2 linked regions of the Homo sapiens genome follow. The protein of the gene in region 2 purifies or fractionates together with the protein of the main gene of each other region. This does not show direct contact. Each region holds a gene or a part of one and is shown on either strand. Other genes may lie near its edges.

Region 1 (12,186 bases), on a different chromosome or scaffold from region 2:
CTTAAAGGAAAGAGACTAGGGAAGGGGAGAAGCAAGCTTGACTTCAAGTGTTCAAGAATGTAGGACCACCGTTTTCTACTAAAAGGAACTAAGGCTCCTTGGGAAAATGGCTAATGTCAGGACTGGGGAAGAGGTACCTGAGCTGAGCCTGGGACATCCTGCACTAGAAAGCAAGGATACTACCAGACAAATACGCCACATCAGAAAGACTCAGAAGCCAACCTGCAGGGGCTTCTGCCAGCCTTACACAGAGTAAGAATAATGACAGTATTTGAAACACATCAAGCATATGAAAACTCAGGATTTCATAATACTAAAAAATGAGCCAGTATGGCAACAGCTCATTACTCTGAAAACTAACAGAGAGAGAGAAAAAAAAAATCAAGCATTTATCCTGTCTTTCCTACATAAATGATATTTTGTGGTAAGCAAATAATTGACAAAGGAAGATTTTTCTTTCTAGGGTTCTAATTAAAAATGCAAAAGGATAGAAGTTTAAATAATCAGCATTCTGTAACCCATAATGAAATAATGGATCTGGTAACACTCATCAATAACTGCTAAGGCCATTACATGAAAGGCTAATTGGGAACTTCATCAATGGAGGGATAAGGCAGATAATCCTCAAATCTACTGATCAATCCCAGAATCACTAAAAATGGGCAACCAGGTAGTATGTGCCTCAGGCGATATAAGGAAACACACACACCACCTATGAAATACTCTCTTCAAGAAAACTGAACTTGAGGCCAAGCACGGTGGCTCACACCTGTAATCCCAGCACTTTGGGAGGCCGAGGCAGGCGAATCACCTGAGGTCAAGAGTTCAAGGCCAGCCTGGTCAACATGGTGAAACCCCGTCTCTACTAAAATACAAAATTAGCTGGGCATGGTGGCGCATGCCTGTAATTCCAGCTACTCGGGAGGCTACTCCTGGAGGCGGAGGTTGCAGTGAGCCGAGATTGCGCCATTGCACTCCAGCCTAGGCAACAAGAGCAAAACTCCACCTCAAAAAAATTTTTAAAAAAAGAAAACTGAACTTGATCAAGCTACCAGACCGAACTAACTACCAGATGACAGGCAATATGGGGGTGTCACAGAGACAAGTTAAATGACACCACAAAGAAGCAAATGGCTAAATTAAAAATGTAACACAAATGACCTGGTTTCTCCAATAAATGAATAGCATGGAAAAAAGGGTGGTAAGGGAGAATGGATATTAGAGAAGAAAAAAATGATTTAAGAAATTAAAAACCCAAGTATAATGTGGGACTTTGGATCCCGACTCATACTAACCAAGTATAAAAAAATTTTTTTCAGGCAATTTGGCAAATTTTAATATGGATTTAATATATCATTTGTGTAGTAGATGATAAAGGGCTTATTAGTTTCATTAGATATTATAATGGCATAAGGTGTGTGTGTTTAAGGCCTGATCAGTTAGAGATGCACTCTGAGGTTTTTCTGAGCAATATGTTTCATTTTCATATGAGACGCATTTACATGTGAAATGGGCTTTGCTTTAATATACTCTAGTGGGGAAAGCATGTTATGGGGAATATGTAAAACAAGGAGACTGCTGAAACACAGGAACAGATACGTGGAGGTTCATTTTACTTTTTTCTCTCCACTTTTAAGATTGTATAGCTCAACATTCTCTAAAAAGCTACCGTCCTACACAGAAGTCTTTCTTTTTTTCTTTTTTGCTCAACTAACCAAGGTACAAACATGGCTACGACCTGGCAGAACCATGCCATACCAAAGCTGTATGTCCTGCAGAACTCACCTGCTCGGACGATAATTGCTGCTTCTCCTGCTTCCACTGGTTTATCTGTGGCTTTGGCTTTTTGGGATGGACGGGCTTCACTTTGCCTTTGTCCCGCAACCTGAAATAACATGGCTGAGTGTCACCTTGAGTCCTTCTTCTAATTTGACACCCCTAGGTTCTCTTTGTACACTGGCCCTTCCCAAGCCCATGATAAGTGAAGTCATTCTAAAAAGGGATACTGCAACAGACCCTCTGAAAGCTCAACATTTGTATACTTAGGACTGCTTGATGCCAGGAGTTTGAGACCAGCCTATGCAACATAGCAATCCCCCGTCTCTACTACAACGAAATTAAAAAGTCCCAGCTACTCAGGAGGCTGAGGAAGGTGGATTGAGTCCAGGAGTTGAGGTTACAGTGCGCTATGATCATGCCACTGCACTCTAGCCTGGGCAACAGAGCAAGACCCTGTGACATGGTTTGGATCTGTGTCCTTGCTCAAATCTCACGTTGAATTGTAATCCCCAGTGTTGAAGGCTGGGCCTGGTGGGAGGTGACTGGATCATGGGGATGACTCCTTCATGAATGGTTTAGCGCCATCCCCTCAGTGCTGTTCTCGTGACGGTGAATGAGTTACCACAAGATCTGGTTGTTTAAAACACTCCCCCCTGCTCCTGGCCATGTGATGTGCCAGCTCCCACTTCACCTTCCACTATGATTAAGTTTCCTGAGGCCTCCCTAGAAGATGAGCAGCTGCTGTCATGCTTCCTGTACAGCCTGTGGAACCATGAGCCAATTAAGCCTCTTTTCTTTTCTTTTTTTTTTTTGAGACGGAGTCTCGCTCTTTCGCCCAGGCCAGAGTGCAGTGGCGTGATCTCGGCTCACTGCAAGCTCCGCCTCCCGGGTTCACGCCATTCTCCTGCCTCAGCCTCCCCAGTAGCTGGGACTACAGGCGCCCGCCACCGCACCCAGCTAATTTTTTGTATTTTTAGTAGAGACGGGGTTTCAGCATGTTAACCAGGATGGTCTCGATCTCCTGACCTCGTGATCCACCCGCCTCGGCCTCCCAAAGTGCTGGGATTACAGGCGTGAGCCACCGCGCCCAGCCAAGCCTCTTTTCTTTATAAATTACCCAGTCTCAGGTATTTCTTTATAGCAGTGGAAGAACTGAATAATACACTGTCTCTAAAAATAAAATAAATAAATAAATAAAACCCCATGGATATCTCAAAAACCTTCATTTATTTAACAAATATTTTGTAAAGATTTACTTTTGTAGAGCACTAATCTGCTGTCCCAAACAGAAACTACAACTGAACCTCAAGTATGTGGTCTCAGCTGGCAGAGATGGCCATCTGGACAAGAGGAAGCTCTTCAAAAGAGGAGAAAAGGGGCACAAAAGCCTGCCCTAGGAGGCCCCTCTGCCATTGATCTAAGAGTGACATCTCTGATGGTGTTGAAGACTCGCGTGTTAACCCCATGTGTGGGAATACATAGCACCAAACATCCTTTTCAACCAAACAAATGCCACAAAGAGAAAATAACTCAGCAAAAACAAACCCGCTTAGAACCCACCCACTGTTCTGTGCTTCTGCCCTCCTGCATCTCACCTGATTTTGGGGCCTCGGTGTGAGGGGAGCGCCAGGACCTTTCTTCTCTTCTTTCCATCAGGCAGCTCCACCTGCTCCACTTCAGCCTTGGTCTGGAACCCGGTCCATGAGGTAGAGCCCGCCTTTCTCTTCTGCTCTGGGGGCACCTTGCTTTGTTCCTCTGTGTGGTGTTGAGCTGCCTTCTGTTGCTGGTCTTTTGCAGGCTCTGGTTGCCCCTTCTGAGGCTCACCAGTTGCAGGCTTGGATCTCATTTTTTGCTGCATAAAACAAGAAAATGCCATCTGGTTTCTGGATGAGCTTTGTTTGCTGCAAATACTCAGCAGAAGATGAGCTTTATGTGAGCTAGATGAAAGAAGAGGAATTCTTCCCCCACACAATTGGAGACTAGAGGAAAGTGAATACATGTAGATCACAAGCCCTGCCACAGTAACAGATGGTTACTGGGTGGGGGGCACAAAATAACCATTCCCCTTCCCATAACACAGAAATAAGGGAGAGTGCATGCCCAAAATTCAAAAGTCAGTAGGTGGGACAATTATCAAAGGTGTAACCTATGTAGAAGGAGAATACAAGAAGAAAGCAAGCAACAGAAAAGATAATGAAGTAATAAGGGCTGAGAATTTTTCAAAACTAATGACAGTCACTAAACCACAGATCTAGGAACTCAGAGAAGACCAAATAAGATAAATACTAAACAATTTACAACCAGTCATATCATAGACAAACTGCAGAAAATCAAAGATAAAATCTTGAAAGAAGCCAGACAGGGGAAAAATTTTACCTATAGAGGAACAAGGATGAGATTACATCAAATCTCTCTCTCTTTTGTTTTTAATAGGCACCCTCCCAAACCAGAGTAGATTGAGAGAGATTTCCAAGACTTCTCTTCAGAAACCATGTAAGCAAGAAGGGAGTGAAGTGAGATATTTAATATTTAAATTTTTAAAAGAAAAAAAAATCACCAACCTACAATCCTGTATCCGATAAACTTATCCTTCAAAAGTGAAGGAAAAGACTTACTCAGACAAAAGAAAATGGAGAGAATTTGTTGCCAGTAGACCTGTCTGCAAGAAATGCGAAATAATCTCTTCAGAGAGAAGAAAAATGACATAGGTCAGAAACTGATCGTTTTCAAGAAAGGAAGAACATCAGGAATGGAATAAATGAAGTAAAGACGACAAGAAAAAGATGCTGTGGGAAGGAAGGCATCAAGGAAGTTATAGAAGTATTTGCACTGAAGTGGAAGAAACAGAAGATTCAAGTGAAATTAATGTAATGATAAGTGTGTGTTGTTCTTCCCTTTCACCTTAGAAATCTAGATAGGTACAACGATACAATGAACATTTATTATATGCCTAGTGTGTGCCAGTCTGTTTCCAGGATACAAAAAAATAGTGTCTACCCTTCAGGACTCACAGCCAGGTGGAGATAAGAGATGCATTCACAAATAAACCAAAGTAAAAAAAACTACACAGCTTAAGGAAGTTCATGAAAATCAAGTAAAGAGGGCCTTATATCTTTTGAGAGAGGTGGAGGCATGCAACTTGAAAGAGATCATTTGATCTGCATATGCAAAGTGAGTAGAGGCATTTTTACACAGAAAGAACAGTATGAATATAAATCCAGGCAACAAATAAAGTAATTTGGATGTTAAAAAACAAACTAGGCTGGGCTCAGTGACTCACGCCTGTAATCCCAGCACTTTGGGAGGCTGAGGCAGGTGGATCACTTGAAGTCAGGAGTTCGAGACCAGCCTGGCCAACATGGTGAAACCCTGTCTCTACTAAAAAAATACAAAAATTAGCCGGGTATGGTGGTGTGCACCTGTAGTCCCAGCTACTCAGGAGGCTGAGGCAAGAGAATCACTTGAACCCAGAAGGTGGAGGTTGCAGTGAACTGAGATTGTGCCACTGCACTCCAAACTGAGCGACACAGCAAGACTCCATCTCAAACAGAAAAACAAACAAAACTGGTAGCTTCAGAATCACCTCTGAAACAATGGCTAACAGTAATAAACAATTCTATTATCTGGGGAACAAAGTTGCCTTGAACAATAACCAGATCCCAGATTTTCCAACCTAGGGCCACTGCATTAACCACCAGAATGGCTCGTCTGTTGGTAATCCTCTTGGTATATACCACAAAGACTACAAATGTTTGCTGTATATGCAAGGGAACTTTGCTGTGCAATATCAATGAGAGCTCTAAGAATGACAGAGTCAAGAATAATCTGGCCCTGTATGTCCTGGGGGAAGATGGGTAAGAGAATGAGTACTGACTGCGTGCTGACCATGCAGTATGCTAGACGATGGACATGTATTATCTCATTTAGTCCTCAGCAATCATGTGAGGCAGATGTTGTCCACCCCATTTTACAAACTGAAGTTCAGAGCGGTAATAACTGCCAAGGAACATGCAGCAAAAAGGGCAGAGCCAGAGTATGAGCATGAGTACACGTATTCCTAAAGTCCCTGCTCCACCTTCTATACCACACCAGATTAAAAACAGTACTAAAACTATCAGGCTTCACACTTCTGGAGCCAACTAATAAAAGAAAATATGGAAGAGATAACTGAAATCTACAGGTAATGGGAAACCTTAACCTCAACCATTAATTTTGGCACGTACTATCACCAAACACTGTAAAAAACGGCTGACTGGAAATAACATTGGTCTGCTTCCTCTCTCCTTCCTTTCCCTTCTGCTGTAGAGCTATCAGACATGGGCCAGCAGATAAGAAGATGGCCTGGAGAGGCTTAGGGAACTGGGAGTAAAGGGAACTAGGAGCAAAAAAACCTAACTGAGGGGAGAACTACTCTAAGAGAGCAGAAGCACAAATTGAACAAAATAGAAGAGTTTATGTCCTTAAAAATATGGACCATTTAATTTCTGTACCAAGCTGCGCTGGATCCTTAATTCCTTCATTTTAAGTTTTCTTCGATCTTCTAAAGAGAACTCCACTATTGGTCTCTGTCAGAGGGAGACAGAATGCCATTCATTAGACTTCTTAATCTGTGCATGCAATGAGCTGAGTTTTTCCCCTTCACACATCCTCCCCCAACCCACCTTTTTTTTGTCCACTTGCCACTGTTTCCCACCCCTCAAATGTCAGAGGACACTAGGCATAAAGGAGAAGGCTGGTTTCCTGCAAGTGGTCCTAAGGGAACAAGTCTCCCCAGAGGACAAGGCCTACCTTCAGAGGCCCAAAGATTTCTGGATTGTTGTTGATGAGGCGGAGGGCTTTCAGGGCATGCTCGTGCTCTTGGAACTCCGCAAAGGCGTAGCCCAGGGACTGACCCTTCATGTTCCCATGAACTCCTTTGAGGTCTCGCATCACTCTACACTATGAGTAGAGCAAGAAAAAAATCAGTAATTACAGAATGAGAAGACTTGCCTGACATGAACTGCTTTAATAGAGTCAATAAGAAATCAGGCTATTGGGTGGGCATGGTGGTTCATGCCTGTAATCCTAGCACCTTGGGAGGCCGAGACAGGAGGATTGCTTGAGGCCAGGAGTTTGAGACCAGCCTAGGCAACATGGCAAAACCTTGTCTCTACAAAAAATACAAAAAATTAGCCAGTGTGGTGGCACCTCAGCTACTCAAGAGGCTGAAGCAGGAGGATCACCTGAGCCCGGGGAGGTTGAAGTTACAGTGAGCCATGATGGCACCACTGCACTCCAGCCTGGGCAACAGAGTGAGACCCTGTCTCAAAAAAAAAAAAAAAAAATCAGGTTATTGAAACATAATCTTCATTTATACCACCATCACAAAAATCACACTGGAATAACACTTATGTGTGTCCATCTTATTAGAATTTACCTACTAAGACCATCAAACAGATTAAAATTGTATTTTCTTGCTTTCTACTAGCTTATAGACATCAACAGAGACCTAAAAAAAAGCACATAAACAAAACTTCCTAAAGAAAATTTATAAAGCGGTATGGATGTTAAAAAACAAACACAATACAAACACAACTGTTTGCGATACATACAAATTGAGAGGTACATGGTATTTTAAGCGTGTAACAAGTTGCTGCCGAGGATGGAGTACTGTCCACAGATCTTACAACTGAAAAAAGCCCTCAGGAAGGAAATTATTGAAGAAGGAAAGGAGGAAGGCCTGATGGCTTTAGATAAGAAAGACATTTCAAGCATAGGAAAAAGTCTCTCCAACATACAGGGTCAGAAATATAGGAAGAAGTTTCAGCTCTCTTTGCTTGCAGCTCAGATCCTCTCTAGTGTGGTTTTCCCTTAAATCCTTAAGCCAGATGTAGTAAACATCTGGGGCACCAAAGTATGGTAGGATTTTTCGAGAAAACTGATCATTTACATGCCATTACTACCAAAGCTGTCGTTCTCATGTAATGGAAACAGCTAAGTATTGGGGATGCATGGATGCCGCATTTAGTTTATGTCCAGTGTCCACTCTGTGCCTAGAACTGTCATACACTGTAAGGGAATCAAGAGAAGCATATAATGAAGATCCTGTTCTCAAGATGCTTACCATCTTACTGAGACACTATACATACAAATAGGAAAGAATTAAGAGGAAAATTCAACATAATGCAAAATATTCTAGAATAAACATAAATTTCTCTAAATTATGACAGGTGTTAAATATGTAGGCACTAAGTATTCGGATGATAGGAGAAATTACACAACTGTCCCTCCCCTATAACCAGTAACACTGAGCAGTTTTACTAACTGTGGTGTCAGATATGTGCTGATATATTCACATTCTCTCAAGTAATCTCCCAAATACCAATCCATACATTTTGAAGAGGTTTTCAGGGATTAGGAAAACAGTTTATGGTAGCGAAACAGAGTAAAGCAGGCCCAAAATATTGGCAATGGTACTTTTAAAATAAATATTGACTAAGAGATGACTATGTACCAGGTACTACACCAAGGATTGGGGATAATGAGATAACGCTTGCCTCAAAAACTCAGTCTAGTGGGGAGAAGTGACTGACAGACAGTTTGAGGCCAGGGTAATAGTAACCAGTATGACAGAGATATGCAAGGCCAGGCCCAGTGGTTCACTGTTATAATTCCAGCACTGTGGGAGGCCGAAGCAGGGGAATCATCTGAGCTCAGGAATTTGCGACCAGCCTGGGCAACATGACAAAACCCTGTCTCTACCAAAAACAAGAAATTAGTCAAGCATGGGCTGGGCGAGGTGGCTCACGCCTGTAATCCCAGCACTTTGGGAGGCCGAGGCAGGCGGATCACTTGAGGTCAAGAGATCGAGACCATCTTGGCAACATGGTGAAACCCCGTCTCCACTAAAAATACAAAAATCAGCTGGGCGTGGTGGTGCATGCCTGTAGTCCCAGCTACTCGGGAAGCTGAGGCAAGAGAATCGCTTGAACCCGGGAGGCGGAGGTTGCGTTGAGCCGAGATCATGCCACTGCACTCCAGCTTAACGACAGAGTGAGACTCCGTCTCAAAAAAAAAAAAAAAAAAAAGAAAGAAAGAAAGAAATTAGCCAGGCATGGTGGTGTGTAACTATAGGCCCAACTACTTGGGAGGCTGAGGTGGGAGGATTGCTTGAGCTTGGGGGGGGGGGGGGTGGCGGTTTGCAGTGACCCGAGATGGTGCCACTGCACTCCAGCCAAAGACAGAGCAAGACCACATCTAAAAAAAAAAAAAGAAAGGAAGAAAAGAAAAAAAAGAAAAGAGAAATACGCAAAGGGGAATGTGGAGGCAGAAAAGTTCTGTACTCACACAGAGTCTAACCAAGTTGGTGTGAACCCAGTGTTTTTCTAATTCAACTGCTGAACATCTACATGGCTTCCTGTGTTGACCACAAGGCATAGGGGACTCTGAACACAGGGTAAGAATCTAACTAGGAGTAAAATACTCTTCCAAAAAGCAAAGCAGATTATTTTCTCTGCAAGAAAATTCACATGATAGCACAAAGTATAATGCTAAGCACACAACAGGCATTTAATAAATGCTTGCTAAATTAATTCATGCAGACAGAGATTTCCTTGCATTCTGCTGTAATTCAGTCAGATGTAAAAGACAATTCTTAGAAGAAAAAGAACAAAACCAAGAAACTGCTAAACTCAGCTATGCATGCTGACAACATGTCCAGAAGAAAGTCTGTTGATGGCCCGGCACAGTGGCTCACGCCTGTAATCCTAGCACTTTGGGAGGCCGAGGTGGGCAGATCACTTGAGGTCAGGAGTTCGAGACCAGCCTGGCTAACATGGTGCAATCCCTTCTCTACTAAAAATACAAAAATTAGCCAGGCGTGGTGGCGCACGCCTATAGTCCCAGCTATTCAGGGGGCTGAGGCAGGAGAACTGCTTGAGCCCAGGAGGAGGAGGTTGCAGTGAGTCAAGATTGCACCGCTGCACTACAGCCTGGGCAACAGAGTGAGACTTCGTCTCAAAACAAACAAACAAAATCTGGCACCACAGCCTGAGGGAAATGCTTGATCTGACCCAAGATCAGAATGAAAGCTCCAAAATGGTCAGGGCCACGTCTCACCTCCTTGATGCGCACCCCTTTCTCTCCACTAGTAGCACTCAGCAGCAGCTTTCTGAGCTGTTTGTCATCTACAGCCTTTGGGAGATTGTGCAGGCAGAGCCTGGTTCGGGAGACAAAGATATTCTGGTCCTTGAGTTTCTGATGCTTCAGCAGCTCAAACTGAAAGAACAACCAATGGTTAACAGTACAACCCACTCTTTTTAAGAGGTAGGCTCATAATTCTCCAAAAGGAAAGAATTATGATCCTCATCCCATAACCACACATATAGAAAACGGATGGAAACTGCCCACACCGCAGCTTTACAATGCCTAGTATAGGGAAAGAAAAGTCCAAGGGAACAAGATGGTGGGTGGGTAATAGTAAAATCATAGGCTCTGGAGACCCATCCCTAACTGGAGAAATTACATAAAATTTTAAAGCCACAATTTTTCATCTATAAAACGAAACAGTAGATCAAGGTCTCTGAGCACTGAGGTGAGGCCAAAATGAGATAATATAAGGCTGGGCAGGGTGGCTCATGCCTGTAATCCGAGCACTTTGGGAGGCCAGGGCAGGCAGATCACCCGAGGTCAGGAGTTCAAGATCAGCCTGGCCAACATGGTGAAACCCTGTCTCTACTAAAAATACAAAAATTAGCCAGGCATAGTAGTGCATGCCTGTAATCCCAGCTACTCGGGAGGCTGAAGCAGGAGAATCGCTTGAACCTGGGAGCCGGAGGTTGTGGTGAGCCAGGATCGTGCCATTGCACTCCAGCCTGGGCAGCAAGAGTGAAATTCGGTCAAAAAAAAAAAAAAATTCCCTAGCTCAAAATGTAGCTCAGAACAAACAACAAATAATACTGTGATTAATATCTATGCCCAGTCCTCATCTACCCACCAGCTCAACTGATTATCTAATCCTTCCAAAAGGAAATGGAAGTTATTCAAAGAATACTTGACAGAATGCTGTGTTGTCTCAACTCTGCCACCCTGAGGCAAAGGAGTATCAATGACCACAGAACCATATTTTGCTCTTAGAGCAATACCCTCAACTATGCTGCCACAAAACCCCAGTTCCTGCGTGATCTGTGTCTAAAATGAAATGAAAGATGACATTCTTCTCCCAATTAGTTTTTTTTAAACCAAGTTGGTAGAAAAAAGTTTTCAATTAAAAGTTTTTCTTTTGTCAAGTCTTCTCAGTCCTGCTGCTTCTTGTTTGGTAAAAGTACCAACAGATCACAAAATAAACAAATCCCTTGGAAAACGACTATTAAAGGAACATCTGAAAAGGCTATCATGTTTAAGTTCAACAGACTATTTTTCTGTCAGGAAAAGCTGTGCCTGCTGTGAATTTATAATGCATACCTATCATTGAATGAGCTTTTTGCTAACAAAATTAGTTTTAAATTAAATATGTCATTATTGCACTGTGATCAGACAAGGGTATATAGTGCCCTTATAAAATTGAGGCTTTAAAATTTTCTGTAATTTCTCCAGTTAAGGATGGGTCTCCAGAGCCTATGATTTCTAGGTGTTCACTACCACAAAAGTTGAAAACACTAGTGCAGAATCTGTGCCCACTGAAAAAAAGACGCACTGCCTCCTGCTGTCATTACACTCTCACCCCTGTTCCTCATCTGCATGTTAAGGTTCCATAGCTAATTCTGTTCACAGTTATGCATCTTTACCCTTCTAGGCTGGCTTGGCTTTTTGAAAGTAAGTTATATGGGAAAAAGTAAAAATTACTGGGAACATTACCAAGCAGCAAAGGAATATGAGTTATCGGTTAACATCGGAAACATCCATAAAATGGAGTTTTTCTAAAATGATTTTATAATCTGGAGATTATAACTCCTCCCAACTGACAGCTACCCCTTTCAAGAGCCATATCTTCTCCCTTCTCTAATAACTCCAGCTCATTCTGATCTTCCTCTTTTACATTATTCTGTGTTTATACTGACACCTAATTACATGTAGCAATAGCCTCTGACTGTCTACTGCATGATGTAGCAGCATGTGTTCAGCAAACATTTACTGCCAAGCACTAGGGAAACAAATAATAAGACACAGTTCTTTTATACCAGCATACAAAACAGATAGAATACTATGTATGATGTTGGGTTACTTGCTATTTCACCTATGTGCTTTTCTCCCTAACAGGGCAATAAGTATGGTCTGTGACCATACTGGGCTCTTTGATGAGCACATCTAGCATTCGATAACTATTTTTGATTGATTTATAGGCCACGCAGAACGTGAAGGTCAATGCCTAATCTACTCACCCGTTCTCTTTTGGCCATATCAGCAGCACTCACACCCTCTGCAGCCTTC
Region 2 (16,206 bases):
ACTTTTTGTCAGTGTATTCAGAAGTTGTAAACTTACCCACTATTATATCCCCAAGAAGCAGGAACTAAAAAATGACAGCCCTAATGAAGGGTGGAAAGACCTCTTCTGAGGTGGTAGATTCTATGTAGCACCCATGAAGTAGGTTTGGTAAGCCACTGAGTTTTTGAGGTGAAAGCAAAATTTCCTCCTGCGAGCCAAACATGGGAGTATCATGGCAGTTCTATGATGAATATCTATGTGTGGCCCTGAAATGGGCCGTAATGTGACTTGTGGAGTTAATCATTAGCCCAGCGGTTGTCTGAACGACTTGATTTCCCTGGGCTGCGAGCAGTTCACCTGCAGAGGAGGCTCCAGAAAGCGGCATGTCCCCTTTGCTCTTTGGGGCTGGGCTGGTCGTTCTGAATCTAGTGACGTCTGCCAGGAGCCAGAAGACAGAACCTCTAAGTGGCTCTGGGGACCAGCCACTCTTCCGTGGAGCTGATCGATATGACTTTGCCATCATGATACCTCCAGGAGGCACGGAATGCTTTTGGCAATTTGCCCACCAGACTGGATACTTCTATTTCAGTTACGAGGTATGTGGGTGACTGGCCATACTGGGGGGCTTTTTTTTTTCTCCTTTACTCATAAAGTGGGTCAGGTTTTAGGCCAAAACAAGGTCTGGTTGTCTTTATTATGCTGTGATTCCCCACCTGTTAATGAAATGGACCTGCAGTTAGAGGGAAACTCCAGCTGGGTGAATAATCACCAACAGGAGCTAAAACATATGGTTTGGCTTCTTACATCAGGGGCCATGCTCAAAGCCATGGGGCAGACGGGGTGCCTCTCCCTGAAGAGGTAATCATTACATGTACTCGGATTTGGGGATGAGAGGGGAGAGAATACATTTTTAATATATTAAAACAAAATTGGATAATGGTGCTTTGGAGACTGATCCAGAGATTTCAAAGAAGGCTGCTTCAGCTTATGGGGTGGGGGAGTAAAGGTTCTGCTGCCTTTAGGAGCAATTCTGGCAAGTCAGAGATTCACTAGGTCAAGTTTTTTGTATTCGGCCAGTTAATCCTATTTTTTTTTTTTAGGACGGTAAGTGTTTTCAAGTTACTTATTCAAAGGTCAAGTACTTTTACCCATACTATGGTCTTATATCATGCTGTCCAAGGATGGTGAACTCAGTATGAAAGTTAGAGGCTGTTCATTTCCTTTGTTCTTTATCTTAGAAATCGGTTAACTTTCTAATTTTTGTTTACATAGTAATAGACTTTGTTGATCTTACTCCACTGTAACAACATTTATTTTAAATAAACTTATCAGAGACTTTTCTTACCTCTGAATTTCTATTAGAACAGCAGCCACTACTAAGCTCACTGTGGCCTGGCCTAATCAAGATCTAGCTTGGGAGCAAGTGTCCATGGAGTGCTTGTTGTAGGTGTGCACTGCCAAGCAGCAAATGCCCAAATCTGGGACATCATTGGGGAGCTCAACCACCAAGCAAGTTCATTCAAGAACTCTACAGCCAGGCCGGGTGCGGTGGCTCACATCTGTCATCCCAGCACTTTGGGAGGCTGAGGCAGGCGGATCACCTGAGGTCAGGAGTTCGAGACCACCTTGGCCAATATGGTGAAAACGCATCTCTACTAAAAATACAAAAATTAGCCGGGCTTGGTGGCATGTGCCTGTAATCCCAGCTACTTGGGTGGCTGAGGCAGGAGAATCGCTTGAACCTGGGAGGTGGAGGTTGCAGTGAGCCAAGATCACTGCACTCCAGCCTGGGTGACAGAGCAAGACTCCGTCTCAAAAAAAATAAAAAATTCTACAGCCAGAATCGTACTTTTTTTTTTTTTTTTTTGACAGAGTGTTGCTCTGTCGCTCAGGCTGGAGTGCAGTGGCATGATCTCGAGTCACTGCAATCCCTGCCTCCCGGGTTCAAGCAATTCTCCTGCCTCAGCCTCCAAAGTAGCTGGGATTATAGGCGCACGCCACCATGCCAGGCTAATTTTTGTATTTTTTAAGTAGAGACAGGGTTTCACCATGTTAGCCAGGCTGGTCTCGAACTCCTGACCTTGTAATCTGCCCACCTCGGCCTCCCAAAGTGCTGGGATTACAGGCGTGAGCCACCGCGCCCGGCCCAGAATCATACATTTTAGTGGATCCACACTAGCTGTGTGTTCCGAGCAAGGCATGTCTTCTTCACACGGGTGCTGTTGGCATTCTGGGCAGTTCTTTGTCCTGCTGTACTGTTTCTTACATTGCAGACGTTCAGCAATGCTGTGCTGCCTCCCCTTAACACCATCACTGTGATACCTCAGAATCCTCCAATCAACTCCAAACCCCAGCAGGGGGTTGGGCAGTCCCACCCCAGACAGAGACCGCTGTGCTGATGACCGTGGGACGTCAATCTTACCACTCAGCTGGCTTCCTCGTGATGTAGCAGGGGTTCTGCTACCTATTTAATGTGTCTTGGCAGGTTCAGCGGACAGTGGGGATGTCACATGACCGGCATGTTGCTGCCACGGCACATAACCCACAGGGATTTCTCATAGACACCTCCCAGGGTGTTCGGGGCCAGATTAACTTCTCTACCCAAGAGACAGGTCTGTTTTCATTACCATGGCTATTATAATAATCATAGGGTCCTATGAAATTACAGAAATAATGAGGAAGTATACAGAGATGTTTTAACAGTAGGAAAAAAATTCAGCCTTTAACACCAAAAACCAGTGTTCCTGGAGGCTGCTGACCTCCAAGGATGCCAAGTGGCAGTCTACTGACGATTTGGGGGCAACACTCCAGGTGAGCATTCTAAGTCTAGGGTTCAGCCGCTCAATTTTATCTCATCATCTCCAGTTAATCAGATTCTGGGAAAGTGACCAAAAAACAGAGACCCATTTATAATACAGAATTCCAATTAACAAATGGATTACAGGGAAGCATGTCTTTCCAGTCATCAGAATATTTGAGTCAGTTACTAAAAGCAGATTCAGAACAAAAGAAAATGCATGATATCCATGTGAGATATCCACACTCCACAGCAAAGCACTCCTCCAGCCAGGTCAAGCCTGTCCCACTTTGGAGAGCAGCAGTGTCTTAACTGCCCTCTTTAATAGCCAGCTGCACTAAAAAAGACATTTTCTCAACAGGGGCATCAGACAGTCCTTCACTATGAAGCACAGCATGTGTATCAGTGTTAAAAGATCTTGAACAGGCTGGGCGTGGTGGCTCACACCTGTAATCTCAGCACTTTGGGAGGCCAAGGTGGGCGGATCACCTGAGGTCAGGAGTTTGCGACCAGCCTGACCAATATGGTGAAACCCCGTCTCTACTAAAAATACAAAAATTAGCTGGGTGTGGTGGCAGGCGCCTGTAATCCCAGCTACCTGGGAGGCTGAGGCAAGAGAATTGCTTGAACCTGGAGGCAGAGACTGCAGTGGGCCGAGAGCGCGCCATTGCACTCCGGTCTGGGCAACAGAGCGAGACTCGTCTAAAAAAAAAAAAGATCTTGAACATCTTTGGCCCCTACATGCCAGTAGTGCCTTCCAATCATTTTGACTTTCAAACACTGCCACACCTTTCTAATCCCACCCCACCCATCTTCTACCGGTCCTCTCCACCTTGCTCCTTCCCACCCGCTCCCCACCCCGCGCCCCCCTCCCCCCCGCACACACAAAGGGAGGCAACCCCAGCCCCAACAGATATAACCAAACCATGAGTCACTGTACACACCGCCTTGGAGGCAATCACTCCAGGAGAGCTGCTTTCATGCACTATGCATCTATTTTTTTTTTTTGTCTTTCCTAATTTCAAGTTCAAGATGGTGTCCCTAGCTTTAATTGTATACAAGGACCAGGCAAACACCATGCTCTTAACTTCAACTCAATCTGTTGAGCAGGAGTTCCTTAATACAAGATGTGGGAATTATATGTTAAAGAGAAAACATTGTTTGCCACTACCCAGTATGGAAAGAACGAGTTACTAAAATTTGGCCAAATATAATAAGTAATATTTAGTATAAGTTTAACATAAGGTCCGTGTCTTCCATGTCAAAAACGGGATCTTTGTACTTTCTAAGTAAAAAGAAGGTCCTGTAGTAGAATTCCAAAACTAGAGGACAGATACCTCCAGGGAATCCTTAACAAAGGGGAGGAGACCAAAGACTTGGTAATGATCTAAGAATTCCTACAGGTTTTTATCAGCTTTGTCTAAGTAATCAGCATAATCACTTCGGTTCTGTGCAAGTGTACCTCAACTTTGGGGTCTTCTATGAGGGGCCTGAGACTGATCACAAACAGAAGGAAAGAAAACAACTGAATGATACTCTGGATGCAATTGAGGTAAGGAAGTGTTTTGTGGAAGAGAAACATCTGTGGAAACTGATTTTTAACTTCAGAGGGAAGATGACTTCATTTAGGTAGAAACCAAACAGGCAAGGGGATGTGAATTTCTTCATAAATTATGACTTGGCTGGGCACGGTGGCTCACGCCTGTAATCCCAGCACTTTGGGAGGCCGAGGTGGGTGGATCACCTGAGGTCAGGAGTTCGAAACCAGCCTTTCCAACATGGTGAAACCCTGTCTCTACTAAAAATACAAAAATTAGCTGGGCGTGGTGGTGCGCACCTGTAATCCCAGCTACTCGGAAGGCTGAGGCAGGAGAATCGCTTGAACCCTGGGAGGCAGAGGTTGCAGTAAGCCGAGATCACGCCACTACACTCCAGTCTGGGATACAGCAAGACACCGTCTCAAAATAAATTACGACTTGAAGCTCTTGAAATTCCATCTTCGTTTTATACCAAGGGTTGGCAAACTATGTATGGCTGACAGGCCAAATCTGGCCCATTGCCTGTTTTTCTTTAAATTGAGATATAATTCATACACCGTACACCATCTAAAAGTGTGTAAGTCAGTGGTTTTTTAGTATATTCACAAGGCTGTGCAACTATCAGCATCTAATTCTGGAAGTTTATCACCCACCCCACCCTCAAAATCCCACTCCCCATTAGTCATTCTCCATTCTATTACCCCAGGCCTGCCTATCACTGTTCTACTGTCTCTATAGATTTACCTATTCTATACTTAATTTTTGAGACAGGGTCTCACTCTTGTCCAGGCTGCAGTGTGCAGTGGCTTGATCACAGCTCACTGCAGCCTCAACCTCCTGCGCTCAAGCAATCCTCCCACCTCGGCTTGCCAAAGTGCTCAGATTCAGCACTTTGAGCCACTGAGCTGAGATTACTCAGCATTATGAGCTACTGTGCCGAGATTAATCAGCACTTTGAGCCACTGTGGCTGGCCTCTATACACTTTATTTAAATGGAATCACACAGTACATGGGATTTTGTGACTGGCTTATTTTTATTATTTTTTGAGACGGAGTTTTGCTCGTTGTCCAGGCTGGAGTGCAATGGCGCAACCTCAGCTCACTGCAACCTCTGCCTCCAGGGTTCAAGTGATTCTCCTCCTCCCAAGTAGCTGGGATTACAGGCACCTCTCACCATGCCCGGCTAATTTTTGCATTTTTAGTAGAGACAGGGTTTCACCATGTTGGCCAAGCTGGTCTCAAATTCCTGACCTCAGGTGATTGGCCCGCCTCGGCCTCCCAAAGTGCTGGGATTACAGGTATGAGCCACCGCGCCCAGCCAAGACTGGCTTCTTTAATTTAGCATGTTCTCAACGTTCATCCATGTTGTAGCATGTATCAGTACTTTTCTTTTTATGGCTGAATAATACTCTCTTTTATGGATACACATTTTATTTATCCATTCATCAGTTAATGGACATGATGGATATTTAGGTTTTTCCACCTCTTGGCTATCATAACGTGGCTATGGACATTTGCATGCAAGTTTTTGTGTTAGCATGTTTTCATCTGTGTATACCTGAAAGTGGAATTACTGGAGACTGTTTACCACAGTGGCTAAACCATTTTAAACTCTTGCTAGCAGTGTATGAAGGTTCTAATTTCTCTACTTCCTCATCAACACTTATTTTTTGTTACAGTCATCCTAGTGGGTGTGAAATGTTATCTTGTGGTTTTGAGTTGCATTTCCCTAATGATTAATAATGTTGAGCATCTTTTCACGTGCGTATTGGCCATCTCTCTTCTTTGGAGAAATGTCTGTTCGAGTCCTTTGCCCATTTTAGGCCAGGCCAGTTGGCCCAACACCTGTAATCCCAGCACTTTGTGAGGCTGAGGTAGGATAGCTTGAGCCCAGGAGTTTGAGACTAGCCTGGGAAACATGGTAAGACCCTGTCTCTACAAACAAAACAACTTTTTAAATGACCCGGGTGTGGTGGCACATACTTGTGGTCCCAGCCACTCGGGAGGCTTAGGTAGAATTGCTTGAACCCAGGATGTCAAGGCTGTGACAGTGAGACCCTATCTCAAAAAAATGAAAATCCTTTGCCCATTTTACTTTTTTTTTTTTTTTTTTTTTTTTTTTTGAGAGAGTCAGTCTGTCGTCCAGGCTGGAGTGCAGTGGTGTGATCTCGGCTCACTGCAACCTTTGCCTCCTGGGTTCAAGTGATTCACCTGCCTCAGCCTCCTGAGTAGGTGGCATTACAGCCACGTGCCACCACGCCCACCTACATTTTGTATTTTTAGTAGAGACGGGGGTTTCACCATGTTGGTCAGGCTGGTCTTGAACTCCTGACCTTGTGATCTGTCCAGCTCAGCCTCTCAAAGTGCTGGGAATACAGGCGTGAGCCACCGCACCCTGCCTGAATTGTCTTTTTATTGTTGAATTTTGTTTATATATTCTGGATACAAATCCCTCCTAAGATATGTGAGTTGCAGATATTTTCTCCCATTCTGGCAATGTCTTTTCACTTTCTTTTTTCTTTTTTGAGACGGAGTTTCATTCTGTCTCCCAGGCTGGAGTGCAGTGGCGTGATCTTGGCTCACTGCAACCTTTGCCTCCTAGGTTCAAGCGATTCTCCTGCCTCGGCCTCCTGAGTAGCTGGGACTACAGGCGTGTGCCACAATGCCCAGCTAACTTTTGTATTTTTATTTATTTATTTATTTATATTTTTTTGAGACAGAGTCTCGCTTTGTCACCTAGGCTGGAATGCAGTGGCACAATTTTGGCTCACTGCAACCTCCGCCTCCCGGGTTCAAGTGATTCTTATGCTTCAGTCTCCCAAGTAGCTGGGATTACAGGCGGGTGCCACCACGCCTGGCTAATTTTTGTATTTTTAGTAGAGATGGGGTATCACTATGTTGGCCAGGCTGGTCTTGAACTCCTGACTTCAGGTGATCTGCCCACCTTGGCCTCCCAAAGTGCTAAGATTACAGGAACGAGCCACCGTGCCCGGCCACTTTTCACTTTCTTTTTTTCTTTTTTTTTTGTTGAGACAAAGTCTTGTGCTGTCGGCCAGGCTGGAGTACAGTGGCACGATCTCAGCTCCCTGCAACCTCTGCCTCCCGGGCTCAAGCAGTTCTCCTGCCTCAGCCTCCCGAGTAGCTGGGATTACAGGCGTGTGCCACCACACCTGGCTAATTTTTGTATTTTTAGTAGAGACGGTGTTTCACCATGTTGGCCAGGCTGATCTTAAACTCCTGATCTCAGGTAATCCGCCCGTCTCGGCCTCCCAAAGTGCTGGGATTACAGGTATGAGCCACTGCACCCGGCCACTTTTCACTTTCTTAATAGTCTCTCCTAAATGCACAAAAGCTCACTGCCTGTTTTTGTAAATGGAAGTTTTCTTGAAACACAGCCATGCTCATTTGACAATTACATATTGTCTGTGGCTGCTTTTGTACTACAATGGCAAGAGTTCAGCAGTCACAGGGGCCTGCAAAGCCAAAAATATTTACCATCTGGCCTTTTAATAAAAAGTCCACAGGCCCTTGTCTTCTACCATATACAGAGAACATAAAACATCACCTGGAATGGTAACGACATGCTGAGTACATCTAAATCTAGAGGTCCTCTGGAAGAGCTCTCTAGTTTGAGTACTGAAGTTTTCCATTATTTAAAAACAAAACAAAAGGCCGGGGCAGTGGCTCATGACCATAATCCCAACACTTTGGGAGGCCAGTGTGGGTGGATCTCTTGAGCCCAGTAGTTCGAGATGAGCCTGGGCAACATGGCAAAACCCTGTCTCTACAATAAAAAAAAAAAAAAATTAGCTGGGTGTAGTGGCATGTGCCTGTAGTCCCAGCTACTAGGGAGGCTGAGGTGGGAAGATCACTTGAGCGCAGAAGGTTGAGGCTGCAGTGAGCTGTGACTGCGCCACTGTACTCCTGCCTGGGCAAACAAGTGAGACCCTGTCTCATAAAACAAAAACAAAAATTTTAAACTCAAATCCAGACCATATTTCATACATAGCAAACACAACATTTAACAACTATCATTGTATTGTACATCTTAAAATCATATGGGTAAATTATTTGACTTGAGATAGGTTAGTGCTAGTGAGCGCTCAGGTGAGGCTAGATGGGGGTTTGGAAGAATCCCCCTTAAAATTGTCTCTCTCATAGGACGGCACACAAAAGGTGCAGAACAATATCTTTCACATGTGGCGATACTACAACTTTGCCCGGATGAGGAAAATGGCTGACTTTTTCCTTATCCAATCAAACTATAACTACGTGAACTGGTGGTCGACAGCCCAGAGCCTTGTTATTATTCTTTCTGGGATCCTGCAACTGTATTTCTTGAAGCGTCTCTTCAATGTTCCAACAACTACAGATACAAAGAAGCCAAGATGCTAAGCTAAGGTGACTATAGCACCCTGGCTGTTTTCTTCTGGGGCTTAGTCGAATCAGCTTTGTAATGTTATGGGACAAAAATCAATTATCTCATTAATGTTTTAGTCTGCTGCACACATCTAAAAAAGCAAAATGGCAATAAAATCATAACAGTGAAAAAGTTCTGAAGAAGTATGTATTAAATGTATGCATCAAAATACTGTTCATCATATAGCAGTCCCTTAGCCTTCACTGAGTCTACTTAGAGGCTAACAGAAAACCTTAGAAGGAAGATGAGTTGAAAAAGGCCACAATCAAGTTTGCTTACATATAAAAGCAGGAGTTGGTAATGTTTTATTCTTAAAGACTTCACCTTTGGAACTTAAAATAAGCAATATATTCATTAAAGAAATAGTTTAATTTTGCAATACAGATAGTCTTTAAATTTTTTGTCTATAAAATATTTAAAGAAATATTCTAAGGATCTTAAAGTAACTTTGGGAGGCACGGGGAAGGACAAAGGGACTGAATTTTTATGTCGTGGCCTCTGATCAGTGCTTTTAGTCCAATCCAGTCAAGTAAGTAAAGGTTCATAGAAAAAATTGTTTTATAAAATCATAGTGATGAAAAAAACTTTCCAGCCTAGCGTCATCCCATCCAAGAAAAATACTGAGAAAACAGCTTGTAAAAAAGAAGGTAATAAAATCAAATTATACTCATAAAACTCTACACTTAATAACAGGAATACATAATATATATAATATAAAAATAATTACCATTTATTCCATACCTATCATTTCCAAGGCACTGTACACTGTACTAGATGCTTTACAATCAGATGGAGTCTCACTCTGTCACGCCCAGGCTGGAGTGCAATGGCACCATCTTGGCTCACTGCAAGCTCTGCTTCCCCAGTTCAAGCCATTCTCCTGCCTCAGCCTCCCAAGTAACTAGGACCACAGCCATGTGTCACCACACCTAATTTTTTTTTTTTTTTTAGTAGAGATGGGGTTTCACCATGTTGGCCAGGCTGGTCTCAAACTCCTAACCTCAAGTGATCCGTCCGCCTTGGCCTCCCAAAGTGCTGGGATTACAGGCGCGAGCCACTGTGCCCAGCCTACAATCATGATTTCTAATTCCAAAAATCAGACTTTCTAATTCTCAGGTAGATGGCCAAAGCTGATTTTCAAGTTTTGTGTCTTTTTAAACAGAAGAAAATGAACCTTATTAAAGCTGAATGACTCATTCAAGGCCATATAGCTGGTAGGTGGCAGAAGTGGGGTTTGAACCCGTTTTTCTTCTATACCACACACCAATTACTGTATAGAAAAATAGCTGAATTGCTCCTATTAGCCAAATTTCATTTTTAAAACCCCACATGTGGTTTATTATTCTGTTATGGCAATGTCTATGTTGCATATTAATAAAAAAGAAAATCCTTGTGTTTAGAAAACAGTGTTATCACAGATAACAATAAGCTATTCTTGTTCCTGGTTCCAATGATTTTGAACCTATTTCTCAGAACAAGAAGCCCTCTGATTCAAATATGAAACAGTATTCTATTTCGTCACAAAGATCTGAAACCCCATTTTTGAGCCATCTCTGTATATAATAAGAATCCAGCCTGCATTTGTCAGTGATAGAGAGTACAGTAAATAAGAAGTCCCTGAAGAGGCCAGAGTGTTGACAAAATTCAACATGATGGTGGAGTCCACACAAACACAGGAAACAAAGCTCGGCCTTTCCATACAGCCGTCTGTCCTTGGAATGGCTTCGTTTTAAGTCAACGTCTCTTCATGCCGCACATATTCCCCAATGTCTGCTTGATGAAATACCACAATCGCCATGGGGTCTACTTTTCTGCAGTCTTGTGTAGATTTGGCTGCCACCCCAAAACCCTGGGATTCAAAAGAAGAGACACTAACTCACTGAAGTCATTCAATATGCCCATATTGAGGGCTGGAAATAACAAAGACGGAAAAAATACAGTTCTGGTCTTTCTGGGATTCAAAACGTGCTGAGAATTTATTCTCTCAAGCACTCAGATTGAAGACATACCCTTCTTGAATAAGAGTACTTGAGTTCTGTAACAGCTACCATCTCTACTCACCAAAGGGATGTCTGCCATGGAGTACACCACCACGCCCTGGTACTGAGAAGTATTTTCAGTGATTCGACCCAGACCAGATTTCAACACATGGTTCCCATACAGGAAGGACTGCTCTGCACCAGGCTTTATCCAAACTTTATACTATAAGAGAATTAAAATCCAAGAGACATAAAAACGTTACTATTTCTATCCATGCAGACAAGCTAGCTGCTGGATCTGTGAATAATTTTCTGAAATAATTTTAAGGGAAACAGAGAGACTCATGTTTTCCTCAAACTGTCTATCTCCTGAACAGAAATGCAGGAAGTTGCCCGGTGCAGTGGCTCACGCTTGTAATCCCAGCACTTTGGGAGGCCAAGGCAGGTGGATCACTTGAGGCCAGGAGTTCGAGACCAGCCTGGCCAACACAGTGAAACACTGTCTCTACTAAAAACACACAAAAAAATCAGCCAGGTGTGGTGGCACATGCCTGTAATCCCAGCTACTGAGGCACAAGAATCACTGGAAACTGGAAAGTGGAGGCTGCAGTGAGATCGCACCACTGCACTCTAGCCTGGGCGACAGAGTGAAACTGTGTCAGGAAGAAAGAGAAAGAGAAATGAAAAGAAAAAACAGAGCAAGAAAGAAAAAGAAAAAAATAGAAAAAGTTATTTTCTCAACTCTACAAGGATCATCCTCCATGGCCAGGTTAACAGCTCTTTTTCTGGACCCCGGTGTCTTCATTGCTGCCACTTATTTGCTTTCTGATCTCTAGCTGGGTCTCCCTAGGCTCTTCTACTTCGCTGGAGAAAACTAACCCTACGCAGCCACATAGCATTCCTATCCCATAGCCCTGACCATGCTCAAGCTGCAAGACCTCTACACATCTCCATGTGCTGAAACTCCTCCAAGCACACTGTCAGGGACTCTGTGGGAGAGAAGCTGCCGGACAATCTGCCTAATCCTTGACTTCATCGCCCGTGGCAGAATTGGAAACCGCCCCACAAACCTTGGCATAAGGTGCAAGGTAATCCAGAGCTGTGACGTGCAACCGAAACTTGTGGGTTTTAGTGAATTTTCCAAAGCAGGTCCCCAGCGACACCAGCTTGTCCCCGGAAATATTGGCGGCCAGCTTCATAATCTTCTCACTAAAAGGGTAAAGGGGGAGCAAGGTTGCGGATGAAGGAGGCTCGTGGGACCCAGGACCCCTCTCCCCTGGGTCCATGCTGCCTGCCCGGCCCCGCCTCACCTCACATAGTACACCCGGTCGTTGTGCAGACGGAAACAGTAGGTGCCATCGGGCCGGTCCACCAGCAGTTGAAGATTCTCCCCAATGCTGAGGGCAAAAAGAGGACTGGAGACCGCGCCCGAACGAACCGGTCTCCGGCACCGCGCCCCCACTCCACCCTTGGCCACCACACCCACACACTCCCGCGTCCGCCCCGCGCGCTCCTACTATTTCGCTATCTTCTCAAACATGACACGGGTCTCCTCTTCAGTCAAAGGCCGCATTTTTCCCCCTGGGTTGGAACACCGGATCCTCGTGCCTTGGTAACTGGAAACGGAAGTCGGTCGCTCGCTGCTCCCCGGCAATCCCAAAGCCTTCCTCTCTAGCCCCGTACCAATAGTTCGTCTCGCTAGCGCCCAATAGTCTGGACGACCGCAGGGGAAAGCAAGCCGGCCGGATGAGAAAGCATAGAGACCGGAAATGTGCCTGTTTCTTCCTGTCCTAAGTTCGGAGTCAGCGCCCCTTGTGGTCCGGAAGGGAAGTGACGTTGTTGCTGGGAAGATGGCGACCGCGGCGACTATCCCATCGGTAGCCACGGCCACAGCAGCGGCTCTCGGCGAGGTGGAGGATGAAGGGCTCCTGGCGTCGCTGTTCCGGGACCGCTTCCCCGAGGCCCAGTGGCGCGAGCGGCCCGATGTGGGCCGCTACCTCCGGGAGTTGAGCGGCTCGGGGCTGGAGCGGCTGCGGCGCGAGCCCGAGCGCCTGGCGGAGGAGCGGGCGCAGCTGCTGCAGCAGACGCGCGACTTGGCCTTCGCTAACTACAAGACCTTCATCCGCGGCGCCGAGTGCACCGAGCGCATCCACCGCCTGTTTGGCGACGTGGAGGCGTCGCTCGGCCGCCTGCTCGACCGTTTGCCCAGCTTCCAGCAGAGCTGCAGGTGCGACGCGCCTGGCGCTAAAGGGGTTTTATAACTGTAAAAGCTGACATTTACGATGGTAGAAATAACTAACACATAAAGCGTTTACCACGTTCCAGGTTCTCTGCTGAGCGCTTTATTAATCCATTTAAACCTCACAACAGCCTTCGAGATAGGTACTGTTATTCCTTTTTTATCTTTTTTGAGACGGAGTCTCGCCCTGTCGCCAGGCTGGAGTGCAGTGGCGAGATCTCGGCTCGCTGCAACCTACCTCTGCCTCCTGGGTTCAAGCGATTCTCCTGCCTCAGCCTCCTGAGTAGCAGGGACCATAGGCGCGCGCCACCACGCCCAGCTAATTTTTTTGGATTTTTAGTAGAGACGGGGTTTCAGCATGTTGGCTGGGATGGTCTCGATCTTTTGATGTCGTGATCTGTCCGCCTCGGCCTCCCAAAGCGCTGGGATTACAGGCATAATCCACTGCGCCCAGCCCTGTTATTTCCATTTTACATATGAGCAAGTCAAGACAGAGATTAGTGACGTCCAAGGACACAGCTAGGAGGTTTCGAATTCAGAACTGGTTACCCAGAAGCACGTCCCTCCCTCGAAGGGCAGTTGTGGGCACAAAGAAAAAGGATTCATGCAAAGCTCTTATTATCGGGTCTGACACAGTTAACATTATAGGTGTGAGCTGAATATATGTGCACATTTATATACTTATTTTATACGAAAGCGTGGACCGGAGGTCATCTGCTTCAAAACTTCCATTGACGGGAAGGTGACAAGGAAATCCTCGCATTTGAGGGCATCAGATATCAAAAAGTCTCTCCATTTGGATGGCTGGATGTGGTGGCTCAGCCTGTAATCCCAGCACTTTGGGAGCCTGAGGCTTGAACCCAGGAGTTCGAGAGCAGCCTGGCCAACATGGCAAAACCCTGTCTCTATAAAATAAAAAATTAGCTGGTCGTGGTGGCGTGCGCCTGTAGTCCCAGGTACACAGGAGGTTGAGGTGGGGGGGTCAGTTGGGCCCGGGAGATTGAGGCTGCAGTGAGCCATGATTGTGCCACCGCACTCCAGTTTGGGAGGTCGAGGCTGCGGTGGGCTGTGATTGTGCCACTGCATTCCAGACTGGGTGACAAAGTGAAACTCTCTTAAAAAAAGAAAAAAAGGCTGGGTGCGGTGGCTCACACCTGTAATCCCAGCACTTTGAGAGGCCAAGGCAGGCGGATCACGAGGTCAAGAGATCGAGGCCATCCTGGCTAACATGCTGAAACCCCCATGTCTACTAAAAATACAATTAGCTGGGCGTGGTGGCACGCGCTTGTAGTCCCAGCTACTCGGGAGGCTGAGGCAGGAGAATTACTTGAACCTGAGAAGCGGAGGTTGCAGTGAGCCAAGATGATGCGTGCCACTGCACTCCAGCCTGGTGACAGAGCAAGACTCCGTCTCAAAAAAAAAAAAAAAAGTCCTTTGTGAGTCATATTCTGTCTCCATTATCCCTAGTTCTGCCTTCCAGCCTTTCATGATTAAAGTTTAATTTTTCTTTTGAGCCTTTGGATATTTGACAGCAGCTTTTGTACCCTTCCATGCTCCAGAATAGATAGGGGACTTGATAAAGCAGGTCTCTGCAAATATGGAGAAGTGTTGAAAGTAGACTGTGGCAGGAACTATGGTTGAACATTAGCATAGGAGAAGATGAAGACCTGAGGGGAAAGATTGTGGATTCTAGGCAGTTAGTGCTTCATTTTGAAAATAATGATAGCTACTGTTAAATATTTAACTGTGTCTCTTTTACTATTTTTACTTTGACGCATTCGCTCTGTTTCAAGTTCTATGTTAAATGCTTCACACACATCATCTCATTTAGTTCTTACACCCTTATGAGGAGGGTCCTATATACTTTTTTTTTTTTTTTTTTTGAGACGGAGTCTTGCTTTGTTGGCCAGGCTGCAGTGCAGTGGCGCCATCTCTGCTCACCGCAACCTCCACCTCCTGGGTTCAAGTGATTCTCCTGCCTCAGCCTCCTGAGTAGCTGGGACTACAGGCGCGCACCACCATGCCTGGCTAATTTTTTGTATTTTTAGTAGAGATGGGGTTTCACTTGAACTCCTGGCCTCAAGTGATCCGCCCACCTCAGCCTCCCAAAGTGCTGGGATTACAGGCGTGAGCCACTGCGCCTGGCCCTATATACCGTTTTACTAATGAGGAAATAGGTTCAGAGAGGCCAAGTACCTTGCCACAGCCAGCAAGTGGCATATCTGGATCTCCATCTGTTAGATTTATTAATTGTATGTTTTTGGACAAGTTGCTTAACCTCTCTGGGATTAAAAATTTCCTCAATTGTAATAATACTTACCTTATAGGTGGGGTGTGAGGAATAAATCAGATAGATCATCCAGCCCAATGTTCATAGCAGGTACTTGGTAACTGTAGCTAAGGTTTGGGTACAGAGCAGTGAAGGATCAACATTCTTCTGATTATTACTAGGAACTTTGTGAAGGAAGCCGAGGAGATCAGCTCCAACCGCCGGATGAATAGCCTGACCCTAAACCGGCACACAGAAATTTTGGAAATACTGGAGATTCCTCAGCTCATGGACACCTGTGTCCGGAACAGTTATTATGAAGAGGCCCTGGAGCTTGCAGCCTACGTACGCCGACTGGAGAGGAAATACTCTTCCATCCCTGTCATCCAGGTAGCCACCTTGCCCAGAGAGGACTCAAAGTAATGTTCTTGTAATCATTTATTCTGTGGTCAGGACTGAAGCTTTAGGTAGAAACTCTTGCATGTTTCACATCAGTTTCTGCCAGCCAGGTATGCCTGAACAGAAAACATTCATTTATTCAAAATACATATTAATCATGTGCCAAGCACTGCTCTATATGCTGGGGATACAGTGTGAATAAAGTGGTCCTGGCTCTCATGCAGCTTACGTGCTAATGGGAAGTCTGATAATTGACAAAGAAATGATATCATTTCAGATAGTGGTGTCTGAAGAAAAAAACAGGGAATGGGGTAAGGGAGTCTAGGGTAGGTTTCTTTAGGTAGGGTGATCAAGAAGGACTCTTCTAGGGAGGTAACATTTAAGCTGAGACCTAAATGAGAAGGAGGTGCCAGCCCACAAAGATCTGGGGAGAGAGCAAACCAGAAAGTGTGAAGAACAAGTAGAGAGGGCTGAAGTGGGCAGAAATTGAGGTGTTTAAGGGATACAGAGGCAGCCAGGGTTAATGGATTGTAGCAGCGGGAGAGCACTAGGAAGCAGGTGAAGATGGAGAGCCAGGTAGGGCCAC

What was found.
Region 1: the proteins of NIP7 (region 2) and RBM28 purify together in Homo sapiens (affinity purification with mass spectrometry; 2 studies listed by BioGRID and IntAct, with this or other methods). This does not show direct contact.

What each region holds. Positions count from the first base shown.
Region 1 is NC_000007.14:128,311,390-128,323,575, forward strand, and holds part of RBM28 (RNA-binding protein 28), read right to left. Parts: coding exon 12,138-12,186; intron 10,036-12,137; coding exon 9,877-10,035; intron 6,718-9,876; coding exon 6,568-6,717; intron 6,345-6,567; coding exon 6,270-6,344; intron 3,632-6,269; coding exon 3,375-3,631; intron 1,886-3,374; coding exon 1,786-1,885; intron 1-1,785. UniProt on the Homo sapiens protein: Nucleolar component of the spliceosomal ribonucleoprotein complexes.
Region 2 is NC_000016.10:69,335,910-69,352,115, reverse strand, and holds NIP7 (60S ribosome subunit biogenesis protein NIP7 homolog), read right to left. Parts: upstream 12,345-16,206; 5' UTR 12,287-12,344; coding exon 12,231-12,286; intron 12,111-12,230; coding exon 12,024-12,110; intron 11,923-12,023; coding exon 11,784-11,922; intron 10,937-11,783; coding exon 10,796-10,936; intron 10,584-10,795; coding exon 10,464-10,583; 3' UTR 9,010-10,463; downstream 1-9,009. Other genes in the region: TMED6 (transmembrane emp24 domain-containing protein 6 precursor), read left to right, coding at 363-575, 2,465-2,591, 4,180-4,328, 8,476-8,709; COG8 (conserved oligomeric Golgi complex subunit 8), read left to right, coding at 12,564-12,940, 15,404-15,611.